Linked DNA regions of Homo sapiens: all the other regions are linked to region 2. Evidence: fine-mapped expression QTL. A gene starts in region 2. Each other region holds a variant in brackets. All regions are shown on one strand. Distances are from middle to middle. Region 1 has its middle 33 kb from the start of HSD17B4. Region 2 holds the start of HSD17B4 (hydroxysteroid 17-beta dehydrogenase 4). Region 3 has its middle 75 kb from the start of FAM170A.

The links.
Region 1: its variant is fine-mapped to the expression of HSD17B4 in whole blood (TOPMed, PIP 0.98).
Region 3: its variant is fine-mapped to the expression of HSD17B4 in lung (TOPMed, PIP above 0.99).

What each region holds. Positions count from the first base shown.
Region 1 is chr5:119,415,507-119,423,691 of GRCh38, reverse strand. No RefSeq gene overlaps it. Among named protein-coding and RNA genes, the nearest start is that of HSD17B4, 33 kb to the left of the region's middle. The variant A/T (reference allele first, on the strand shown) is at 4,632.
Region 2 is chr5:119,448,177-119,456,361 of GRCh38, reverse strand. HSD17B4 (hydroxysteroid 17-beta dehydrogenase 4) reads right to left here and starts at 3,865. Exons shown (of 24, transcript NM_000414.4): 1 at 3,729-3,865; 2 at 1-47. The coding sequence starts at 3,786. RefSeq lists an enhancer at 3,715-3,764.
Region 3 is chr5:119,550,079-119,558,263 of GRCh38, reverse strand. It overlaps the pseudogene FABP5P6. Among named protein-coding and RNA genes, the nearest start is that of FAM170A, 75 kb to the left of the region's middle. The variant G/A (reference allele first, on the strand shown) is at 4,504.

The DNA of each region.
Region 1 (8,185 bases), 33 kb after region 2:
CTTTAGATGGCAGCTATGCAGGCCAAAAGTATGCTTTAGCATTTTTAAACCACAGTATCTGAGTTTAATAAGAAAATGGATCCATCTGGGGATCAACATAGGCTTTCCAGGAACTCATATTGCATAAGTCAGGATCAAGTCTTGAATGGAGATAGAAATTCCTTTCCTGGGGTCACAAGAAGCTTTCTAAGGGGCTCTATACTGCAACGGCAGCTGGATTTTGCATGAACTGTAGAACCATTGCTAGAGCCAGGAACAGAGCTTAGACTTGCTCTTTTTCTCAAGCTCAGCTTACTAGGTGGAAATCTCATAGATTTTTTTTTCTGATTTTTTTCTCCTTTATCTTATTCCTTAGCCTTGGACAGATGATCCAGGTTGAACCTGCTGTAGCAAGAAAATGTTAGCAAGAAGGAAATTTTTAAGCATCCTTTGGAGTAGCAAAGTCAGTGTTACTAATCGATGCCTAGCAAATGTCATTGCACCCTAACTGGGCCTCTGAAACCTTGTTATGTTGGTAACAAAAGGTACAACACAGTGGGCCGGGCGCGGTGGCTCACACCTGTAATGCCAACACACTGGGAGGCCGAGGTGGGATCACGAGGTCAGGAGATCGAGACCATCCTGGCTAACACAGTGAAACCCCGTCTCTACTTAAAAAGTCCAAAAAATTAGCTGGGCATGGTGGCAGGCACCTGCGGTCCCAGCTACTCGGGAGGCTAAGGTAGAAGAATGGGGTGAACCCAGGAGGTGGAGCTTGCAGTGAGCCAAGATCATGCCACTGCATTCCAGCCTGGGTGACAGAGCAAGACTCTGTCAAAAAAAAGAAAAAAAGAGTACATAGAAACACAACTAGTCTTATTACACAAGATATTTCCCAATTGAGTTTAGGCTCACAGACCCTGGCCAACTGGCACAGTATGACTGGTAACCTGGCAAGCAACCTGACAAGCTCAAACAAGCTTTTCTGTTTTCTCCATTCTGCAAATTATCCTAAATCGCTTGGCTGGCAACTGCAATAAAGATCTAAATTGTGCTGGGATCTGGGAAATATCATTTTTGCTTGTGATAACTGCTGCTCATGTTTCCTAAGTATTGTGGGTGTGTAGCTGCTGCTACACTGGTCTTATGCATCCTGTGCTCTTTGGAAAAGTAAGACAAGTGAGAGAATTGCAGTTGAGTTCATCCCACTTTGGAGGTGCAAGAGGAGCTAGCATTCATTCTAGTATAACAGCACAAGATACGGTGATAGCATCCAGTGGTGACTAGTGTATAAAAGTGATGCTTTCACTGCATATTCTCACTCATAAGTAGAAGCTGAACAATGAGAAAACATGGACACAGAGAGGGAAACATCATACACTGGAGCCTGTTGGGGCATGGGGGGCAAGGGGAGGGAGAGCATTAGGACAAATACCTAATGCATGTGGGGCTTAAAACCTAGAGGACGGGTTGACAGGTGCAGCAAAACACCATGGCACACATATACTTGTGTAACAAACCTGCACATCCTGCACATATATCCCAGAACTTAAAGTAAAATAAAATAAAATAAATAAACATTTCCACATTTTTATAAAGTGGTGTTTTTAATAAAAGCAGTACCATGTTTTCCATTTTAAACTTATCTCTTGGGCACACAGATCCCTATGCAGGAGGTAAGATTTCATCATGCATACATTCAGCCTTTATTTATTAAGGGCTTGTATTAGTCTGTCCTCATGCTGCTAATAAAGACATACCCAAGACTGGGTAATTACAAAGGAAAGAGGTTTAATTGACTCATGATTCCACATGTCTGGGAAGGCCTTACAATCATGGTGGAAAGCAAATGAGGAGCAAAGCCACATCTTATATGTCGGCAGGCAAGAGAGAGCTTGTGCAAGGGAACTCCCATTTATAAAACCATCAGATTTTGTGAGACTTATTCACTACCACGAGAACAGTATGGGGAAAACCACCCCCATGATTCAATTATCTCCCACCAGGTCCCTCCCATGACACATGGGAGTTATGGAAGCTAGAGTTCAACATGAGATTTGAGTGGGGACACAGCCAAACCATATCATTTCACCCGTGGCCCCTTCCAAATCTCATGTCCTTACATTTCAAAACCAATCACACCAGCCAGGTGTGGTGGCTCACACCTGTAATCCCTGCTCTTTAGGAGACTGAGGTAGGTGGATCGCCTGAGGATAGGAGTTTTAGACCAGCCTGGCCAAGACGGTGAAACCCTGCCTCTATTAAAAATACAAAAATTAGCCAGGAATGGTGGTGCATGACCGTAGTCCCAGCTACTCAGGAGGCTGAGGCAGGAGAATTGCTTGAACCTGGGAGGAGGAGATTGCAGTGAGCTGAGATAGTGTCACTGCACTCTAATCTGGGTGAAAGAGTGAGACTCCATCTTAAAAAAACAAAAAACAATCATGCCTTCCCAACAGTCCCCCAAAGTCTTAACTCATTTCAGCATTAACTCAAAAGTCCACAGTCCAAAATCTCATCTGAGACAAGCAAGTCCCTTTTGCCTGTGAGCCTGTAAAATCAAAAGCAAGTTAGTTACTTCCCAGATACAATTGGGGTACTGGAATTGGGAAAATACACCTGTTCCAAATTGGAGAAATTGGCTAAAACAAAGGAGCCACAGAACCCATGCAAGTCCAAAATCCAGAGGGGCAGTCAAATCTGAAAGCTCCAAAATGATCTCCTTTGACTCCATGTCTCACATCCAGGTCATGGTGATGCAAGAGGTGGGTTCCTATGGTCTTGGGCAGCTCTGCCCCAGCTTTGCAGGGTACAGCCCCACTCCTGGCTGCTTTCACGGGCTGGCATTGAGTGTCTGTGGCTTTTTCAGGCACACAGTGCAAAGTGTCAGTGGACTTACCATTCTGAGGTCTGGAAGACGGTGGCCTCTTCTCACAGCTCCACTAGGCAGTGCCCCAGTGGGGGCTCTGTGTGGGGCCTCAACCCCACATTTTCTCTTCTGTACTGCTCTAGCAGAGGTTCTCCATGAGGTCCCCACCCCTGCAGCAAACATCTGTCTGGACATTCAGAGTTTCCATACATCTTCTGAAATCTAGGCAGACATTCCTAAACCTTAATTCTTGACTTCTGTGCACCCTCAGGCTCAATACCATGTGTAAGCTGCCAAGGCTTGGGGCTTACACCTTCTGAAGCCATGGCCTAAGCTATACTTTGGCCCCTTTTAGCCATGGCTAGAGCGACTGTGTGGTAGGGTATGAAGTCCCTAGACTGCCTACAGCAGAGGGACCCGGGGCCCAGTCCACAAAACCAGTTTTTCCTCCTAGGCTGCCAGGCCTGTGGTGAGAGACGCTGCTGTGAAGACCTCTGACATGCCCTGGAGACATTTTCCTCTTTCTCTTGGTGATTAACATTTGGTTCCTCATTTCTTACACAAATTCTGCAGCCAGCTTGAATTTCTTCTCAGAAAATGGGTTTTTCTTTTCTATCTCATTGTCAGGCTGCAAATTTTCCAAACTTATATGCTCTGCTTCCCTTTTAAACATAAGTTCCAATTTCAGATCATCTCTCTTAGGTTCAAAGTTCCACAGATTTCTAGGGCAGAAGCGAAATGCCACCAGTCTCTTTGCTAAAGCATAACAAGAGTGACCTTTGCTGTAGTTCCCAACAAGTTTCTCATCTTCATCTGAGACCACCTCAGCCTGGATTTCATTGTTTATATCATTATCATCATTTTGGTCAAAACCATTCAACAAGTCTCCAGGAAGTTCCAAACTTTCCTACATTTTTCTGTCTTCCTCTGAGCCCTCCAAACTGTTTCAACCTCTGCCTGTTACCCAGTTCCAAAGCCGCTTCCGCATCTTCGTGTGTCTTTACAGCAGTGCCCCACTCTACTGGTACCAATTTACTCTGTTAGTCTGTTCTCATGCTGCTAATAAAGACATACCCCAGACTGGGTAATTATAAAGGAAAGAGGTTTAATTGACTCACAGTTCCACGTGGCTGGAGAGGCCTCACAATCATGGCAGAAGGTGAATGAAAAGCAAAATCACATCTTACAAATCGGCAGGCAAGAGAGAGTTTGTTCATGGGAAATCCCACTTATAAAACCATCAGATCTCGTGAGACTTATTCACTACCAGGAGAACAGTATGGGGGAAACTGCTCCTGTGATTCAATTATCTCCCACCAAGTCCCTTCCACGACATGTGGAAATTATGGGAGCTACAATTCAAGATGAGATTTGTGTGGGGACACAGTCAAACCATATCAGGGCTGCTATGGGTCAGGCACTGTTCTTGGTGCTGCAAACAAAATAGACAAGGTCCCTGCATTTATAGATCTTATATTCTAGAGAGAAAAGAGTTGATAAACTACAAATAAATAATTCCAGATAACTGTAAGTGCTAAGGGAAGATATTTATTAATTTAACAGATGTCATTATTTTCTAGGCACTTTCTTAGTATTTTACAAATATTAACTTATCTGATTTCATAACGACCTAAAAAGTAGATTTTATAATTATCCTCATTTTCAGATGAGAAACCCTTCCACAAAAAGGTTAAATAACTGCTAGCATAGAGTGAAGTGAGAATTCAAACCCCAGTGATTTTTGCCTAAAACTGGATAATTCTATTCAAAAGAGACTGGAAGC[A/T]GAGACAGGGAGGGGAGGTACAAATCTACAGAAGGTATCCTGGAAAGGCTTACAGGGAGGTGAATTTTGAGCTGAGACCTGAATGTCAACAAGGAACCAGTCAAGCAAGCATTAGGACAGACCCTTCTGGGCAGAATGAAAAGCACATGCAAAAGCTCTGTGGGGAAAACACCTTGACTTCCTGGTACATGAGGAGGTCAAAGAAGTGGGCAAGGACCAGATTGTGTGGAGCCTTGTAGGCAATAGTTACAAGTATGGATTTTCTTCTAATTATAATAGAAATCCCTTGAAAAGCCAGGGAGTAAAATAATCTGATATGTAAAACCACAAATTTCATTACATATACTTATAAGAATGTATGTGCCTAGAGAAAAGCCCAGGGAGGGGCATACCAACTGATAACGGTGGTTAGTTCTGGAGATATGTTCGGGATCATGACAGTGATGAAAGAGACTTTCACTTTATCTTTTTTTGTTCACATGAAAATGTACTTGTGTAATTATACAAATGAATAATTTTAAAAAAACAATTTAAGCTCCTTAAAATACCATGTATTGCATAGCGTAAAACCTACTCAATTACAAGCAGATGCACCATGCTAAAGAAAACACAATATTGGGCAGCTTGTGTAGCCTGAGTTGTATGATGTGTATCTCCCTTAGAGAAACCACAAGCAGCCATGTGTATTGCATAATAAGCTAATCAGCTTAGGAAGCAGAGAATTTGGGAGTACTGAGGAGAAGCATGCTAAATAAAGCTGCATGCTGAGGCTGAGAAAATGCAATTTAGGAATAAGAACTTAGCTGGTTTCTCTAACTGGAAAGCCGTGGATGATCTGTGCGTTGTATAAACTATGAAAACCACTTTCAGTGTAAAGTTGAGCTACTGCCAGCATTTGTCTCTCTTTACAGAATGTACCCAGTGAAATGTTAATTAGGAGTAAAACTGGCTTACCTCATTCACCTATTCCTTTGACACTTAAGCCACTTGGGATTTACCACCCACTTTCACATTTTGTTACGTTCAGTCTTCCAACTTCCTGTTCACAACCCCTCTTTTATCACTTAGTTTATTTCCTGCTGTCTTGCGCTCCACCTCAACTGCTTTTATTCTGCTTGGGGACTTCAGAATCAATGTGCATTGGACCCACTGAATTGGACCCATCCAATACTTTGTATCCTAGTTAATGCTCTCATTTCCAGTGACTTTTTAAATTTAACAACTGCTAGCACTCTCGCCCATACTCACAACCCTGAATGTGTTCATTACCAAGAACCTTACCACTTCTGAAATCTCATGTCCGAATGTCCTGCCTTTCTAGCACAAGTGCTCCCACTGCAGAAGTCTCCAGCACCATGACCTCCAGTGCATCCTTGGCGCTCCTAATACCCAGACCCTTTTCTGTCTTACTTTCTTGTCTTGCTTAGACTCTATGACCCACCATTACAATCTACAGCCTTGCTTCTCTTTTCCTTCTATCATGCTTTCCTAGAAAACTTTGCAGTTTTCCAGTTTAAAATGTTTTCTAACTTCTAACATTTCTTTCTTGATGCATGAGTTATTTACAAGTTATCTTCTTAAAATCAAACAAGGAAATTTCCTAGTCATCTTTTTGTCAATGATTTTGAGCTTAATGCATTATTATCAAAAAACATTCCCTGATTTCAAGCCTTTTAAATATAGGGAAGCCGGCTTTATGATCCACCATACTGTCAATTTTAACAGGGATTCCATGTATACTTGAAAAGAATGGGTATTTGCAGTTTGGGGCTCAGGGTTCCATATGTGGTCATTAGGTCAAGTTTGTAGATCATATTGTTCAAGTCTTCTGTATCTTTATGGATATTTTATCTGCTTGCACTATCAGTTACTGACAGAAATATGTTTAAAATACCCCACTATGATTCAGGGTTTTTCTAAATCTCTTGTTATTCTTTCCATTTTTTTGCTTTATACGTATTTGAAGGTTTGCTATTGTCCTGTGATCCATTCTATACTATAGAAGACCAGACCCCAGGAAACTATCTACAACTTCCCGAGGATCATGAGGACCTTAGCAGGTTTACTTTTTTAAATTCTAGAGAAATTGTCTGTTTAGTGTCTCGCTGGAATACAATCACTATGGCCAAGGAGTGTCTTGGCAAGCCAATGCTGAGTCATAAGCTAATTCTTTTTTTTTTTTTTTTTTTTTTTTGAGACGGAATCTCACTCTGTCGCCCAGGCTGGAGTGCAGTGGTGCAATCTCAGCTCACTGCAAGCTCCGCTTCTCAGGTTCACATCATTCTCCTGCCTCAGCCTCCCGAGTAGCTGGAACTACAGGCACCCACCACCACACCTGGCTAATTTTTTGTATTTTTAGTAGAGACAGGGTTTCACTGTGTTAGCCAGGATGGTCTTGATCTCCTGACCTCATGATCCACCCGCCTCAGCCTCCCAAAGTTCTGGGAATACAGGCGTGAGCCACCCCATCTGGCCGTCATAAGCTAATTCTTTAGGGCAAGATCTAAGACTGTCAGCTCCTACAAAAACGTGGAGAAATTCCTCAAAAAAAAAGTGGACTACTGTTTTGCACAGACAATACATTTGCACTGCAACTAGCTTTTTACAATTGTAAATAGACAGCATGACAACTCTTTGGAGTTAGCATTAGCAACTCAGATTCAAAGCAGTAGCCCATCCACTGTAGACCGTGGGAGGGGCCTAAGTATTTAACATAGATGAGCAAAGAATATAGAATCAGAAAATGCAAGAAAATTTCTGGAAAGAGTGATACAAGTTACTTTTACTTAAAAGTCACACCTCAGTTTGAATTTCAACACCTTCCCTATCTATATAAACGTGTATAAATTATTGACCTACTCTAATCCCCTTCTGAAAGATATAATTTAAGTGCCTAGTAAATACTAACTGCTCAATAAAGGTTAATTTCCTACATAAGGAGGGAGAGTTTACTCTAGAACACCACAGTGATTATAACTTATATTCATAGATGATTGGATATATTTATGCTTAATTATGCATAGAGTTCATAGTATAAACTATCGGTTTAGTCTTTCTCATCTAAATCTCAGTTTTAAAGAATCTCTTCAACATTTGGATATGAGAGGTGGCTTCACAGGTATATTAGTTATTATGCTGTTTAACAAATCACTCCAAAACCTAGACACTTACATCACAAACACTCCTTTATTATCTCTGTTTATGTGGGTTGGAAATTTGGGCATAGCTTAGCCAGATACCTAAAGCTTGCAGTCTCTCAAAATGTGTCTCACAAGGCAATCAAGGTGTCCACTTCAACTGCAATCATTTCAAGACTCATCTGGGGGAGGACCCACTCTGAGTTCACTTCTGTGGCAATAGGCAGACCCCGGGTCTTTTCTGGCTGTTGGCTGGAGACATCAGTTCCTTGCCACCTGGACCACTCCATAAGGCCACTCACAGCCTGCAACTGGCAACTCAAGGTGAGAAAATGAGAGAGCAAGAGAAGACTCCCCCCAAAAGAAGCCACCATCTTAAAAAAAAAGACTTTATGTTTTAGAGCAGTTTTAGGTTCA
Region 2 (8,185 bases):
TAACGCTCCTCTTTCTGCAAAAGCCAGGGCATAGGCTCGGCCCAATCCTAATCAAAAACAAAATAATCAGAAAGTTGAAGAAATGTCAGCATAATTTTTTTGGTCCGCTCAACTCAATCCCCATTTAAAGAAATTGGTGAACAATTAATTACATTTTAATGATACTCTCAACCTATCCTATCACTGACATTCTCAACCTATCCACTCTCTTCTGCTTGCAGAGGCTGGAAAGCTTAAAACTGTATTTTTCCACCTATTCTACTACCACTTCCTACCATTCTACTTAGCTGCTAGGATGCTGTGAATTGGGTTCCACCATCTGATGCATCTGCATAAAACTTAGAAGGTGTAAGTGAGACAGAGACCACCTTACTGGGAGTTCTGGCTGTTGTTGTTAAGAAGCTAGTTTTCTTGAAAGTTCCTAGGTATTCAGAAACTGACTATAGCAGCGACTTCTTCATTCAGCTCCCTAATCCCTGGATGGCAGCTTCCATACTTCAGGTCCCTAGTGCCAGTGCTACTTGGGCTGTGGCACAGCTCCAATGACAGCCTCAGAGGTATTGCCTCCTCTAATGGATCAATTTCCTATTGTTTCAGGAGTTATTCTAAGAAGACCTGCCTAAAACCTAATTGCCTGTATTGAATCCTTTGCTGCTTAAAATATCTAGTGGTTTCTGTATCCCACAGTGAACCCTGACTACACAGTCATCAAATACAGAAAATATTTAATTCTGACTCAAAGCTACAAGGTGTAAATTTATATATCCAAAAAGAAATTATATATATATATATAGAGAGAGAGAGAGAGAGAGAGAGAGAAAGTTTTGCTTTTTTTCTTTTTTTTTGAGATCCAGTCTCACTCTGTCGCCCAGGCTGGAGTGCAGTGGCATGATCTCGGCTCACTGCAACCTCCACCTCCCAGGTTCAGGTGATTGTCCTGCCTCAGCCTCGCGAGTAGCTGGGACTACAGGCGCCCGCCACCACGCCCAGCTAATTTTTGTATTTTTAGTAGAGATGGGGTTTCACCATGTTGGCCAGGATGGTCTCGATCTCTTGACCTCGTGATCAGCCCACCTCGGCCTCCCAAAGTGCTGGGATTACAGGCGTGAGCCACCACCATCCCCAGCCAAGAGAGAAGTTTTATAGGCATAGAGTATCTCGGGAAAAACACATTAGAAACTGGCAATTAGTGGTTACCTCTGGAGGACAGAACTATGTGGCTAGCAATAAGGGGTGGAAGGCTTACTTCTGGATTGTTTTTCTGTATTGTTTACATTTTTTAATATGTGTATATTTTTTACATTTTAAGTTAATTGATAAATTTCATTGACAAATGAATAAATTTAATTAACAATTTATATTTAGTATAAATTAATCAATAAGTATACAAATAACAAACTGAGATACATAAATTATTAGCCCCTTCCAAAAACAACCCAAGGCCAGGAGTAGTGACACACATCTGTAATCCCAACACTTTATGAGACAGAGGTGGGCGGATCATTTGAGGTCTGGAGTTCAAGACCAGCCTGGCCAACAGGGTGAAACCCCGTCTCTATTCAAACCACAAAAATCAGCTGGGCTTGGTGGTGTGCACCTGTACCCCCAGCTACTTGGGAGGCTGAGGTAGGAGAATTGTTTGAACCCGGAAGGCAGAGGTTGCAGTCAGCCAAGATCATGTCACTGCACTCCAGCCTCGGCAACAGAGCAAAACTCCCTCTCAAACAAAAACAAAAAGAACCAAAAATATACAGTTTTCCAAAACTAGGAAATTTCACCAAATAACTTATTTTAGAATTTAATCCAAGCAGAAGGATCACTTGAGGCCAGGAGTTTGAGACCAGCCTGGGCAACAAAGCGAGACTCCATCTCTTGAAAACATTTAAAAATTAGCTGGGCGTGGTGGCACATGCCTACAGTCCTAGCTAGTCTGGAAGCTGATGCAAAAGGATCACTTGAGCCCAGGAGTTCAAGGTTACAGTGAGCCATGATCGGGTCACTGCACTCCAGCCTGGGTACAGAGTAAAACCTTTAGCTCTGAAAAAAAAAAAAAATTTAATCAACTCTGAATGGGTAAGAGAGAATTTAACCAGTTTATGAACAGCAGGTGCTAAGTTCATAACTGTCTAGTCACAACTCATTGTTTCACAAAATCAATTTTGTGGGTTACAATTACAATTTATAAATAAAACAGAATAGAAAATAAATTTCAGGATGCATTGCCTGTACTACACACTATATCATGAACTGGTTTTAAATACAGATGTATGTGCTTGTGTAAGTGTACTGAGTACTGGTGTAAAATGTACTGCATACCATGTGTAAGTATGCTAATGGTGTCAAAAGAAGCAGTCCCTATCCTTGAATGATTTTCAGATATAGCCCCTGAAAAGGAAAGTCTCCTTAGCGATGGCAAAAACGTCTTAGAATGTAATCCCTGGACCTCCTGCATGAAAATTATCCAAGAGCTGTCAAAAAAGATTTAAAACACCAAGCGTTGTAAAATACATTATTTACAATAAAAGCAAAGTGTAAACAAAATGTTTTCCTAAAAACATTTAGAAGGTATGACTACACCCAAATACATGCCCATGCAGAGATAACCAGACAGCTATGGGTATAAAATACTTGGCTATTCATCAACACTGAAAGCATTTTCTGAAAGGCAGCATAAGAAGCCACTTTATCAATACAGATATGAAAGTACATAGGAATTAATTGACAGAATTCCAGTTTGTAACGTTTAATATATAACTCAAATAATTCATGCATTAGGGCCTTTCCAGGTATAAGGTACTACCAGTGGAGAATCAAAGGTGCATAATGTCAAGATCCCTGCACTTGGAGGTTACAGAGGTCACCCACTGGTGAGAAACTAATGTAAAATCTCACTGCACAGCATCTATGTTGGTATGAATGGTTTGTTTTAATTTTTTGTACTTTAAAAAATGGGGCTATTTCACATAACAATTTTCCATTTTGCCGCTCCTGAAATACAGGCAACTTTCCCACTGGCCGGTCCACTTCGGAATTCTCTGCTCTCCAGTTCCTCAGATGTGCCCATCCTACTCCCATTTTCTTTCTCCATCATACGCCTGACCCCTGTGCGCATTTGAGCTTACAACCTCTGCCAAGACTCCAGTGGATTTCGAGAACAGATTGTGACTTGCTAAGCATACAAACTCCAACGGGGAAGGGCTCTTATCAGACGCCCTCTTTAAAGAAGGTCCTCTCACGAACTTAAAATCTTACGACAGAGGGAAACAAACACTGAACGACCGAATGACTTTTCAGGAGCTGACATCTCTGCGCTTCAGGGGGCGAATTCCAGCCCCCGCCCCTCGCGGCTTTTCAGTCCTTTAAAAGACTAGGCAAAGATCTAAGAGAGTTAATTGCAGGAAGAGTAACAATCGATGCCCACAGATAAGGGTCAGGGAGAACTTTCACCCAGTTTTGCAATCAGCAGCCCAGCCTGGCCTCTCCTCTCAGGCAGGACCTTGGGAAGCCCACACCGGGGTGCTGGGGAGAAGCGGGCTGTACCTGCTTGAGAGACCAGGTGTTTCCGGCTCTTTCCTCCTCAAGAGATGCGGTGCCTCAAGAATAACCATTCCCCTCCCCACCACCTCAGCGGGGTGACCTCAGCTGCGGCTGCGCGCGTATGCCGGCCCGAAAAGAGCAGCCAGCTGCGCCTCAGCAAGGGGCGCGGCCTCCAACCTTCGCATGCTCACCTGCCCCCGCGCCGGTGACCAGTACCACCCGCCCGTCGAACCTCAGCGGTGAGCCCATGAATAAGGCCTGCAACGACACACACACGAACAAGCAGAGCCGCTGGACGCCGACTGCGGGACAGGAGGAGGCGGGGAATGGCGGGGGCGGGACGAGGGTCAGTGACTTGCCGATTTCTGGTAGGAAGATGAGCGCAGAGCGCGCGGCTCCCTTGGAATCCTGGGAAATGTAGTTAAGAGTGACTCCACTCGCTGGAAGACTTGCCTTCCAGGGGCCATTTCTGCGGCTGGAAGCAATGGGAGCTGCTAGGACTTGTGTAGAAGAATAGTTAACTCGACACCTTGCGTTCATCTATTCACCTGTCGTTTCATCATTCACTCAATAAACGTTTTCTGGGTTTAGTTGCTGACCTAGAGAAACAGCATGCGGCCCCTATCCTTGAGGGGCTTCCAGAGATAGCCCCTGGGAAGGAAAGTCCCCCTTAGGGATGGTAAAGATTTGTCAGTGTAATAATCCCTGCACTTCTACATGCAAACATCAGGGGACTGTCAAAATGCAGAGTCCTGGACCCCCACTGCTTACCTCCCAAAATAGAATCTCAAGGGGCAAAAACATTTTGACAAGTGTTCCTAAATGATCTTGCGTTTGTATGTTGAGAACAGTCATAGTTCAATCAACATTTACTGAGCATCTCCTGAGTTTTGATAGGATCCTCAAGCTACTCAGAGTCAGATGGTAAACTTTCAATAACGGTGCAGCCTAGACTTGTGACCAATGTGTGTAAGTGAGCTAATGGTGTCAAAATAAACAGACCCTATCCCCGCTGGGGAGAAAGAGGAAAAACTTTCTGAAGGAGGACCAGGACCTAAAGTGGCGACCCCTGCAAAGAAAGAAGGGCATTACAGGCAGCACAAACACTAGCTAGGTTTGGGGAGAAAGAGGGTAAAGCCACAAAAGCAAAGCCAGCAAGATCATGTTTAGATGTTTGAATTTTGTGCTGAAAACGGTTTTAAGTAGGATTACTCCAGAGAGTGGTGGGAACACATTTACACTATGGAAAGATCACTTTGCCCATTATGGAGGATTGATTGGATGTTGCGGGAAGTCATGGACCCCAAACAGAGGGACCTGCTAGAGCCGCAGCAGAGGAACATAAATTGTGAAGATTTCACGGACATTTATCAGTTCCCAAATAATACTTTTATAATTTCTTATGCCTGTCTTTACTTTAATCTCTTAATCCTGTTATCTTCGTAAGCTGAAGGTGTACGTCACCTCAGGACCACTGTGATAATTGTGTTAACTGTACAAATTGATTGTAAAACATGTGTGTTTGAACAATATGAAATCAGTGCACCTTGAAAAAGAACAGAATAACAGCAATTTTTAGGGAACAAGGGAAGTCAACCATATGGGCTGACTGCCTGCGGGGTTGGGCAAAAACAGCCATATTTTTCTTCTTGCAGAGAGCCTATAAACGGACGTGCAAGTAGGGAAGATATCACTAAATTCTTTTCCTAGCAAGGAATATTAATATTAATACCCTGGTAAAGGAATGCATTCCTGGGGGGAGGTCTATAAACGGCTGCTCTGTCTTATGTGGTTGAGATAAGGACTGAGATATGCCCTGGTCTCCTGCAGTACCCTCAGGCTTACTACGGTGGGGAAAAACCCGGCCCTGGTAAATTTGTGGTCAGACCAGTTGTCTGCTCTCGAACCCTGTTTCTGTTGTTTAAGATGTTTATCAAGATAATACATGCACTGCTGAACATAGACCCTTATCAGTAGCTCTGCTTTTGCCCTTTGTCTTGTGATCTTTGTTGGACCCTTATTAGTAGTTCTGCTTTTGCCCTTTGTCCTGTTCCCTCAGAAGCATATGATCTTTGTTCTGCTTTTTGCCCTTTGAAGCATGTGATGTTTGTACCTACTCTCTGTTCTTACACCCCCTTCCCTTTTGCAACCCTTAATAAAAAACTTGCTGGTTTGAGGCTCAGGTGGGCATCACGGTCCTACTGATATGTGATGTCACCCCCGGCAGCCCAGCTGTAAAATTCCTCCCTTTGTACTCTTTCTCTATTTCTCAGCTGACTGACACTTATGGAAAATAGAAAGAACCTATGTTGAAATATTGGGGGCAGGTTCCCCCAATAATTAGAGGTGGGCAAGGAGAACATAGAAAAGATTTGGGGGAAATTATGGAAACCAGAAGTAAGGCAGAGGAAATGTTGAAGAAGAAATGTTGAGATAAACTGTATTTGCAAATGGAACTGACAGGGATAGAAGGCAGGGAAATTCTGGGCAGAAGAGGGCAGGTCCCCAGTGAGGGCTCCAACCTCAAGCCTGAAAACACAGCCCAAAGTGAGAACATGCATCCCTGTTTTCCCTCTTGAATGTTGCCTTTTCCAAAACCACCTATGGTCCCCCTGCCCCCCATCCTGTGCCCATAAAAACCCCAGGCTCCAATGGCAGAGAGGAGAGGAGAGAAGAAACAGCTCGACTTCAGAGGTATGGCTTAATGGCGTTGCTCCTGGGGAAGATCACCTTCTCACTCCATCCCCTTTTCAGCTCCCCTTCCCATTGACAGCCACTCTCATCGGCAATAAAATCCTCTGCATTCACCATTATTCAATTTGTTCCTGTGACCTGATTTTTCCTGGATGCCAAACAAGAGCTCAGGTGCCACAGGTGTGACACTAAAGGCTGTCACACTGACCCTCTGCCCTCACTGGCAGAGAGCAAGTGCCTCACACCAAAAAACAGAGGGCCTACTGAGCTGTTTAACATTTAAGCCATCAGTGGATGGCAAAGTTAAAAGAGCACTGTAACACACACCCTCTGGGGCTTCAGGGGCCTTAGGTACCCCTCTAGACACTGCCAAGGGCCACATAGAGTTTTGCTCCTGCATGCACTGGCCCCAGCTCCTGCACCCACTCACCTGTGCTCCCCGTTCCTGTGGAACGCAGTGGGACCCAGTGAATGGAGTCCACCCCTGCCAGACCCAAAGCGGCCAGCTAGTTCTAGATCCTATGTGCTCCAGTTCCTGCCCCCACCCATGAAGGGGTCAGGAAAATTTCCTGCTTCAGAACTAGTCTTTTTGATTAATTAGATGTAGATATGAGAAAAGAGCAACTGAAATAATCCTATATTTTGATTTGAAAATCTAGATTACGATGGGCCATTCATCAAAATAAATAGTGGAGAAAGAGTGGCTTTGGAGGGGTTATGGCTTCAATTTTAGACAAACTGCATCTGTGAAGGGGAAGCAAAACTATGGCTAGAGACACCTAGCAGACAGCTATGGTTCCAGAGCTCTGACAGCTTGGTTTCTGTTATAAATAAAGTTTTGGTGCCACAGAAGAAATAGCACTCGAATATAAAATTTTTTTTTCTTCTCAGCAACGCAGTTTACTTCTATAGAAGGTTGCACTCTCACAGATGGAGCAATGGTGAGCGCACACCCGGACAAGGGAGGGGAAGGGGTCCTTATTCCTGATGCATGTGGCCCCTGCTGCTGTGTCATTCCCCTATTGCCTAGGGTTAGTCCACACAGGTTAAACTAATTCCAGTTGGCTAATTTAAAGAGAGTGACAGGGTGAGTGGTTTGGCAGGAAAAATGGTTATGACAGAGAGGACATCGGAATGAGCCAGGGTAGAGAATGAGCAGGTAATCAGAATGAGACAGGGTGGAGCAGGTAATCGGAAAAGGTTGCTTTACGAGGAAGTTAAGTTTCAAAGTAGAAGGCAAAGAATTGAATACACTGACATACTGATTCTTTTAAAAGAAATTTAGAACTCATATCTAACAACTCCTCCTCTTGCATTTCCTTACAGCTCTTTCTCTTCAAACTTCTTTAACATGTCTTGGCTTAGTTGTTCTGCTTGATTTTCCAAAAGAATAAGCTTCTCTGGATAAGGTGGAGGATAGTTAAGGGAGGATTTAGTAAGTGCCATTTCTATGAGCCTCTGCACCAACCCACAGATGTATGGTATGATACAGCACCCAACAAGAGTAAGTACACCCATTACGGCTGCAAGGGAAGTTAAGAATTGAGGCTATTATTCCTTTCCATTTACCAAACCACTTTTCTAGGCATCCTGTAAAGGGCCCATTTACCCTTAGTTGCTGGCTAACTCACTGGACAGAGCAGTCAGACCTTGCAATGCCTTTGTTATACTTCCATTAGGGGCGGTATTGTTTGGGATGAAGGTACAACACTGAGTTTTAATCATGATGCAAACTCCTCCTCTTTCTGCTAATATCATGTCTCAGGCTATCCTATTTTCCCAAGCCATCTGGCTAGTAGCCCCTAATTGCTCAGCTATTCTTTTAACAGCATCTCTAGGGTAGTTAATAAATCGCTGTTGGTTGCAATAAATGTAGTTTATCAAACCTACATTTTTATTAATTGTAACTTACCAAAATACTGGCTGAAATCCTGCAGCTATTTGATTTTGGGCT
Region 3 (8,185 bases), 100 kb before region 2:
CTAGAACAAGTAGAAGAAGGAATGTCAGAGCTTGAAGACAAGGTGTTTGAATTAACCCAATCATAACCCAAAAATAATACAATGAAAAAAACAAAGTATCTAGGTAACAAGTAACATGATGAATAGAATAGCACCTCACATCTCAATATTAACATTGAATGTAAATTTATAGGCCCTATAACATTTATGCTTTCAGGAGGTTCTATTTTGGTGTATCTCAAACTTTTGTTTCAAGATTTAGAACTTCTTTTAGCATTTCTTGTAGTGCGGGTTTGACATCATTTGTTTGTCTGAAAAAGACTTTATCTCTGCTCATTTATGAAGCTTAGTTTTGCTGGATACAAAATTCTTGATGAAAATTATTTTGTTTAATGAGGCTAAAGATAAGACCCTAATCCCTTCTGGCTTATAAGGTTTCTGCTGAGGAATCTGTTGTTACTCTGACAGGTTTTCCAGTATAGATTATCTGATGCTTTTGTCTCACAATTATTAAAATTTTTTCCTTTGTCCTAACTTTAAATAAACTGATGACTATGTGCCATGGTGATATTTTTCCAATGAATTTCCTAGGTGTTCTTCGAGCTTTTTGTATTTACATGTCCAGATCTCTAGCAAGGTCAGGGAAGTTTTCCTCAATTATTCCCTCAAATAAGTTTTCCAAACTTTTAGACTTCTCTTCTCCCTCAGAAATACCAATTATTCTGAGAATGGCGTGAACCCGGGAGGCAGAGCTTTCAGTGAGCCGAGATCACACCACTGCACTCCAGCCTGGGCGACAGAGCGAGACTCCATCTCAAAAAAAAAAAAAACAAATACCAATTATTCTTAGGTTTGGCCATTTTACATAATCCCATATTTCTTGGAGACTTTGTTCAGTTTTTAAAATTCTTTTTTCTTTGTCTGATTGGGTTAATTCAAATGCCTTGTCTTCAAGCTCTGACTTTCCTTTTTCTTCTTGTTCTAGTCTATTTTTGAAACTTTCTACTGCATTTTATATATTCCTAAGAGTGTCTTTCATTTCCAGAAGTTCTGATTGTTTTTATGATATCTAGTTCTCTGGAAACATTTTCATTCATATCCTGGACTTTTTAAATTTATTTATGTTGGTTTTCACCTTTTTCTGGTACCTCGTTGAGTAGCTTAATAATCAACCTTCTGAAGTCTTTATCTGGCATTTCAGAGATTTGTTCTTGATTTGGATCCATTGCTGGAGAGCTAGTGTGATATTTTGGGGGGTGTTATAGAACTCTGTTTTGTCATATTAGCCAGATTTACTTTTCTGCTTCCTTCTCACTTGGGTAGACTATTTCTTCAAATTGTTCTTGAATTTATTTTTAATTGGACTGTGTTTTTTTAAGCATATGACTTTAATGCTTATAGTTTATTTTAGCCTAATTTGATTCTTGGTGCTTTTAAGAGTGAACACTCTATATGAATTCCTTAGTTACAGAGAGTCTTGTGCACTGGCTTTCCCAGATGCTGGTTGTAGTAGTTATATACTTGGTGCATGGGCAAGTTCACTGTCTCCTATAGGGTTGGAATGGCAGGGATCTCTTGAAGCTTATCTCATTCTCTCAAGGTATACAGTTTATTTATTTATTTACTTTTTCCCCAGTATTTTATTTACTGAGTTGATGATTCAGGCTTTAGACCAATTAGGGGAGGTGTCCTTGGGTAAGCACTGGTAGTAGCTAAGGCAGATGTGTAGATGTAATACCCAATGGTTGGCAGAGGTCCCAGGCTTGATGAAGGTGGCCGGGGGAGCTCTCAGTGAGATGTGCTGAGGTTTTATCAGGGTGAAGGGTGGGAGCTACCTCAGCTCCTCTGTCAGGCCCCTGTTGACCATTATTAAAGTGATAGATAATGAAGTAAAAATAATCAAATTATTATGATACAGAGGGTTTCTACCTATATGATACAGAGGGACAAAGATTCCAAATGAAACATGAATAAAGGAAATGTAAGAAATAAAATCAAAGCAAAAAGTTAAATTAATGAATATAGTTTAGATGAAGAAAATGAAACCTTACAGATACACCGAAATCATCTTTGATAACTTCTGCACGCTCATTCAACAGAAGCAACCACTCTCATGAAGCAGGTGTGGATCCTCTCCAGTCCATGCTTTATCCCTTTATTACATGTAAATATAGCCATAGAAAGTATAATGTTTTTAAATTTTTACATGAATTGCATCATTCTACACATTTCTGGAGTGATTTTTTTTATTTTGGCCAACAATTGTGTTTTAGTTGGTTATATATTTAGGACCACAAACATGTCTACTATGAAACTGGAATATTTGCCTTCTAATTAAACAAGAAATAACTATATAATAACTAACAGGATCAAAGTGTCCACACAGAACAGTAGCAGATGCAGGTGACTGCTGGACCTCTTCCCAGCCTCTAGCTCCCTAAGGTGGGCACCATATCCAGGGACAGAGTCCACACAGGAAGGATCCTGAAGCATCTGAGGACACAGCCACACTCTTGTCATGCCATTGCCCTTCTATTCTTTCCTTATAACATCATGTAAGAGGGCACAGCATGTTTCCCATGCTGGACCCTGCTCTGCTCACTCCACACACCTTCTGACACCCACCATGGACACTGTTCAGCAACTGGAAGAAAGAGGGCACCTGATGGACAGCAAAGGCTTTGATGAATAATAAATACATGAAGGAACTAGGAGTGGGACTAGCCCTCTGCGAAAAAAAGGGTGCTATGGCCAAAAAAGATTGTATTAGCTTTTTTGATGGCAAAAACCTCACCATAAAAATGGAGAGTACTTTAAAATCATACAGTTTTCTCACACTCAGGGGAGGGAAATTCAAAGAAACTACAGGTGACGGCAGAAAAACTCAGACTGCACCTTTACATATGGCACATTGGTTCGACATCAGAAGTGGAATGGAAAGGAAGGCAAAATAAGAAAATTGAAAGACAGGAAATTAGTGGTGGACTGCATCATAAACAATGTCACCTGTACTCAGATCTATGAAAAAGTAGAATAAAAACTCCATCATCACTTTGGACAAGAATTAGTTATCAGAATGAACAAGCTCAGTTCAATGGACAAATCCCCTTACTACTGCTTTTTTTGTCATTACTGTATTCAATTACCTTTATCAAAAACATTTTACATGCAACTATTTCAAAGTGTTGGTTTAATTAGAACCCTCTCCAGTCCATGCTTTATCCCTTTATTACATGTAAATATAGCCATAGAAATATGGCTTTGATTAATAAATAATTGTGTTTGTATAAAAGAAAGAGAGAAAAAGAAAAAAAGAGAAAGAAAGAAAAAAGAAAAGAAAGAGAAATCATGTAATAGAATGTTAGAATATTAACAAATATATCAGTTAGAACACAACCTCATGTGTCAGTACCCTAGGGTCCCTGAACACCATCCCTGACTCAGGCTTTCCAGCATGCTTGTATCACTCAGTGCAATCCCTGACTCTGATTTTAGTACATGTCTATTTATATATCTGTTTCCTTTCCCTTTCCCACTTGTACTCACGAGTGCCACGAGGACAATGTTAAATAGTAGTGGTGACAGTGGACTTATCTTCCTGTCTATAATGAAATGTCCTTTGTATTTTACCATTAAAGGACAAGGGAGAGATAGAACAATCACTCAACTTAGGTTAAAGAAGTATCCCTTTATACCTATCACATTAAATGTCTTTATCAGCAACAAAAAAAGAAAACTTCAGGCCACTATCCCTGATGAACATTGATGCAAAAAATACTGACAAATCGAATCTGGCAGCACATCCAGAAGCTTATCCACCACGATCAAGTTGGTTTCATCCCTGGGATGCAAGGTTTGTTCAACAGGCAAATCAATAAACGTAATTCATCACATAAACAGAACTAAAGACAAAAACCACAAGATTATCTCAATAGACACAGAAAAGGCCTAATTCAACATCTCTTCATGTTAAAAACTCTCAATAAACTAAGTATTGATGGAACGTATCTCAAAATAATGAGAGACATTTATGACAAACCCACAGCCAATATCATACTGAATAGGCAATAACTGGACGCATTCCCTTTGAAAACCAACACAAGACAAGAATGCCCTCTCTCACCACTCCTATTCAACATAGTATTGGAAGTTCTGGCCAGGGCAATCAGGCAAGAGAAAGAAATAAAGGGTATTCAGGATGGGCACGGTAGTTCATGTCTGTAATCTCAGCAGTTTGGGAGGCCATGGTGGGCAGATCACGTGAGCCCAGGAGTTCAAGACCAGCCTGAGCAACATGGCAAAACCGTGTCTCTCCCAAAAATGCAAAAATTAGCTGGGCGTGGTGGCACATGCCTGTAGTCCCAGCTACTCAGGAGGCTGAGGCAGGAGGATCACTTGAACCCAGGAGGCAGAGGTTGCAGTGAGCCAATATCATGCCACTGGACTCCAGCCTGGATGACAGAGTGAGACACTAAGAAAGAAAGAGAGTAAGAGAGAGAGAGAAAAGAAAGAAAGAGAGAGAGA[G/A]AGAAAGAAAAAGAAAGAAAGAAAGAGAAAAAAGGAAGGAAGGAAGGAAGGAAAGAAGGAAGGAAGGAGTCGAATAGGAAGAGAGAAAGTCAAACTCTCTCTTTTGCGGATGACATGATCATATATCAGAAAATCCCATTGTCTCGGCCCAAAAGCTCCTTAGGCTGATAAGCAACTTCAGCGAAGTCTCAGGATACAAAATCAACATGCAAAAATCACAAGCATTCCTATACACCAACAAAAGACAAGCAGAGAGCCAAATCATGACTTAACTCTCATTCACAATTGTTACAAAGAGAATAAAATACCTAGGAATACAGCTAACAAGGGATATGAAGGAACTCTTCACGAAGAATTACAAAGCACTGCTTTGTAATAAGCACTGCTTTGTAATAAGTATTTGCTTTGAAATAAGAGGGGACACAAACAAATTGAAAAACATCCTATGCCCATGGATACAAAGAATGAATATTGTGAAAATGGTCATACCGAACAAAGTAATTTATAGATTTAATGCTACTCCCATTCAACTACCATTGACATTCATCACAGGATTAGGAAAAACTACTTTAAAATTCATATAGAACCAGAAAAGAGCCCGTATAGCCAAGACAACCCTAAGCAAAGAGATGCTGGAGGCATCATGTTACCTGATTTCAAACTACACTACAAGGCAAACATGAACCTGATCACAACAGCATGGTACTGGTACCAAAACAGATACATAGACCAATGGAAGAGAATAGAGACCTCAGTAATAAGACCACACATCTATAACCATTTGATCTTCGACAAACCTGAGAAAAACAAGCAATGGGGAAAAGATTCCCTATTTAACAAACGGTGCTGGGGGTGCTGGCTAGCCATATGTAGAAAATGGAAACTGGACCCCTTTCTTACACCTTATATAAAAATCAACTCAAGATGGATTAAAGACTTAAATATCAAAACCCAAACTATAAAAACCCTAAAGAAAATCTAGGCAATACCATTCAGAACAGAGGCACAGGCAAGGATTTCATGATGAAAACACCAAAAGCAATTGCAACAAAAGTAAAAATTGATGAATGGAATCCAATTAAACTAATGAGCTTCTGCACAGCAAAAGAAACTATCATCAGAGTGAACAGACAACCTACAGAATGGGAGAAAATTTTTGCAATCGCTCCATTTGACAAAGGTCTAATATCCAGAATCTATAAGGAACTTAAGCAAATTTACAAGAAAAAAACAACTCCATCAAAAAGTGGGCAAAGGATATGAATAGATACTTTTCAAAAGAAGACATACATGGGGCCAACAAACATGCAAAAAAGCTCAGCATCACTGATCATTAGAGAAATGCAAATCAAAACCACAATGAGATACCATCTCACAACAGTTAGAATTGTGATTATTAAAAAGTCAAGAAACAACAGATGCTGGGGAGGCTGTGGAGAAATAGGAAGGCTTTTACACTGTTGGTGGGAGCGTAAATTAGTTCAACCATAGGGGAAGACAGTGTGGTGATTTCTTAAAGACCTAAAACCATAAACACCATTTGACCCAGCAATGCCATTACTGGGTATATACCCCAAGGAATATAAATCATTCTATTATCTGTGCACATTTATGTTCATTGCGGCGCTATTCACAATAGCAAAGACATGAAATCAACCAAAATGCCCATCAATTATAGACTGGATAAAGAAAATATGGCATATATACACAATGGAATACTATGCAGCCATAAAAAGGAATGAGATCATGTCCTTCGCAAGGACATGGATGGAGTTGAAAGCCATTATCCTCAGCAAATAACACAGGAAGAGAAAACCAAACACCGCATGTTCTCACCTGTAAGTGGGAGCTGAACAATGAGAACATATGAACACAGGGAGGGGAACAACACAAACTGAGGCTTGTCAGGGGAGGCAGGTAGAGGGAGAGCATCAGGAAAAATAGCTAATGCATGCTGGGCTTCATACCTAGGTGATGGGTTGATAGGTGCAGCAAACCACCATGGCACATGTTTACCTATGTAACGAACCTGCACGTCCTGCATATGTATTCCAGAACTTAAAATAAAATTAAATTAAAAGCAAATGATGCTGAATTTTAAGTGCTTTTTCCAAATCTATGGAGATAATATAAATTTTTCTCCTTGTCCCCAGTAGCTCACCATGATCAAATAGCGGTTAGTACTCTGCATCGCAATCTATTAATGTGATTAATCCTATTAATGGAGTTTCTAATATTGAACCATAAGGGGTACGCTTTTAATGTGCTATTAGACACTTTTTTTAAAGGCCATTAGTCCATACTTTCTTTTGATTCTGTCACCTTTGAAGTTTTAGTATTGTTATTATATCAACTTAATGGACAAACATGGCAGCTCTCATTCCGTGCCCTCCAGAACAACAGAAGTAAGATTGGCATTTTCTGTTCATTAAGGGTTTGGCTGAATTCACATGTGAATCTGAGGCTTAGGAACTCAGGGAGAATAGTCGTTTCTCAAACTTTCTCAAATTCTATTTTTCTTCTTCTTGAGACAGGGTCTCACTCTATCATGGGTTGGGGTGCAACGGCATGATTACAACTCACTGCAGCCTCCACCTCCTGGGCTCAATTGATCCACCTGCCTCAGCTTCCCCAGTAGCTAGGACTACAGGCATGTGCCAGGCTGGCAATTTTTTTCATTTTTTGGAGAAAAGAGTTTCACTATGTTGCCTAGGCTGGTCTTGAATTCCTGGATTCAAATGATCCTCCCACCTCAGCCTCCCAAAGTGCTGGGATTACAGGTGCGAGCCACAATGGCCAGCCTCAAATTCTTTTATGTCAAGCCATCTGTTTAGATTTTCTATTTTGTGTCAATGATGTAAAAAAATCATTAAATTTATACAGCATTTGAAGTTCATTGGCATACAGTTAAGCAAAATACTCTCCTTTTTAAAAATTAATTAGGTAAGATTGTGAGTTAGCTATTTATTACACTTTGTAAAGATCAGCCTGTTGATTTGTTTGTTCATTTAATTATTTATTTACGCTAGATTTTTTATTTTCAACTCTCTTCTTTTTCTGCTTTTATTATAAATAATTCCTTTGCTCCGCTTTCTTTGGGTTTGTTGTTTTTCTAACTTACTAAGTTGAATGCTTAATTCATTTATTTATATTCCTATAATTAGTATAAGAATTTTAAACTATGAAATTTTCCTTTGATTACTGCTTTAACTGTATCCTGCAGTGTTATACCATTTCCATATATTCCCGTATGCAGACATAATTTTATAAAATAAATGTAATAATATGCAAGCTTTGTTAATATACCTTTTTCCTTCTCCTTTTGCTTGGTCTCCCTTTCTCCCTCCACTCCTCTCCCCTCCACTATAATCACCATACCCTAACTGCCACGGTAATCTTTGCTAACGACATAATGTGTTGGGATACATTTTTCCTATAGTGAAAAATCTTTCTCCGTCATTCTGCTTTAGGTGTGTATTATTTTATAGCATATAGTTGAATTTTCTTTTTTTATGTCACTATTGTATTTTCCCAATATTTAAATTGCAAAAATGTTTGAAAATACAGTAAACCTGAAAGAATTTTACACTAAGCACCTCTATAACCACCTCCTGAATAATTAACGTTGTACTATTGTTACCAGTGGAGGGTGTCCAGGTACTTGGCGTTTTGAACAAAGAAT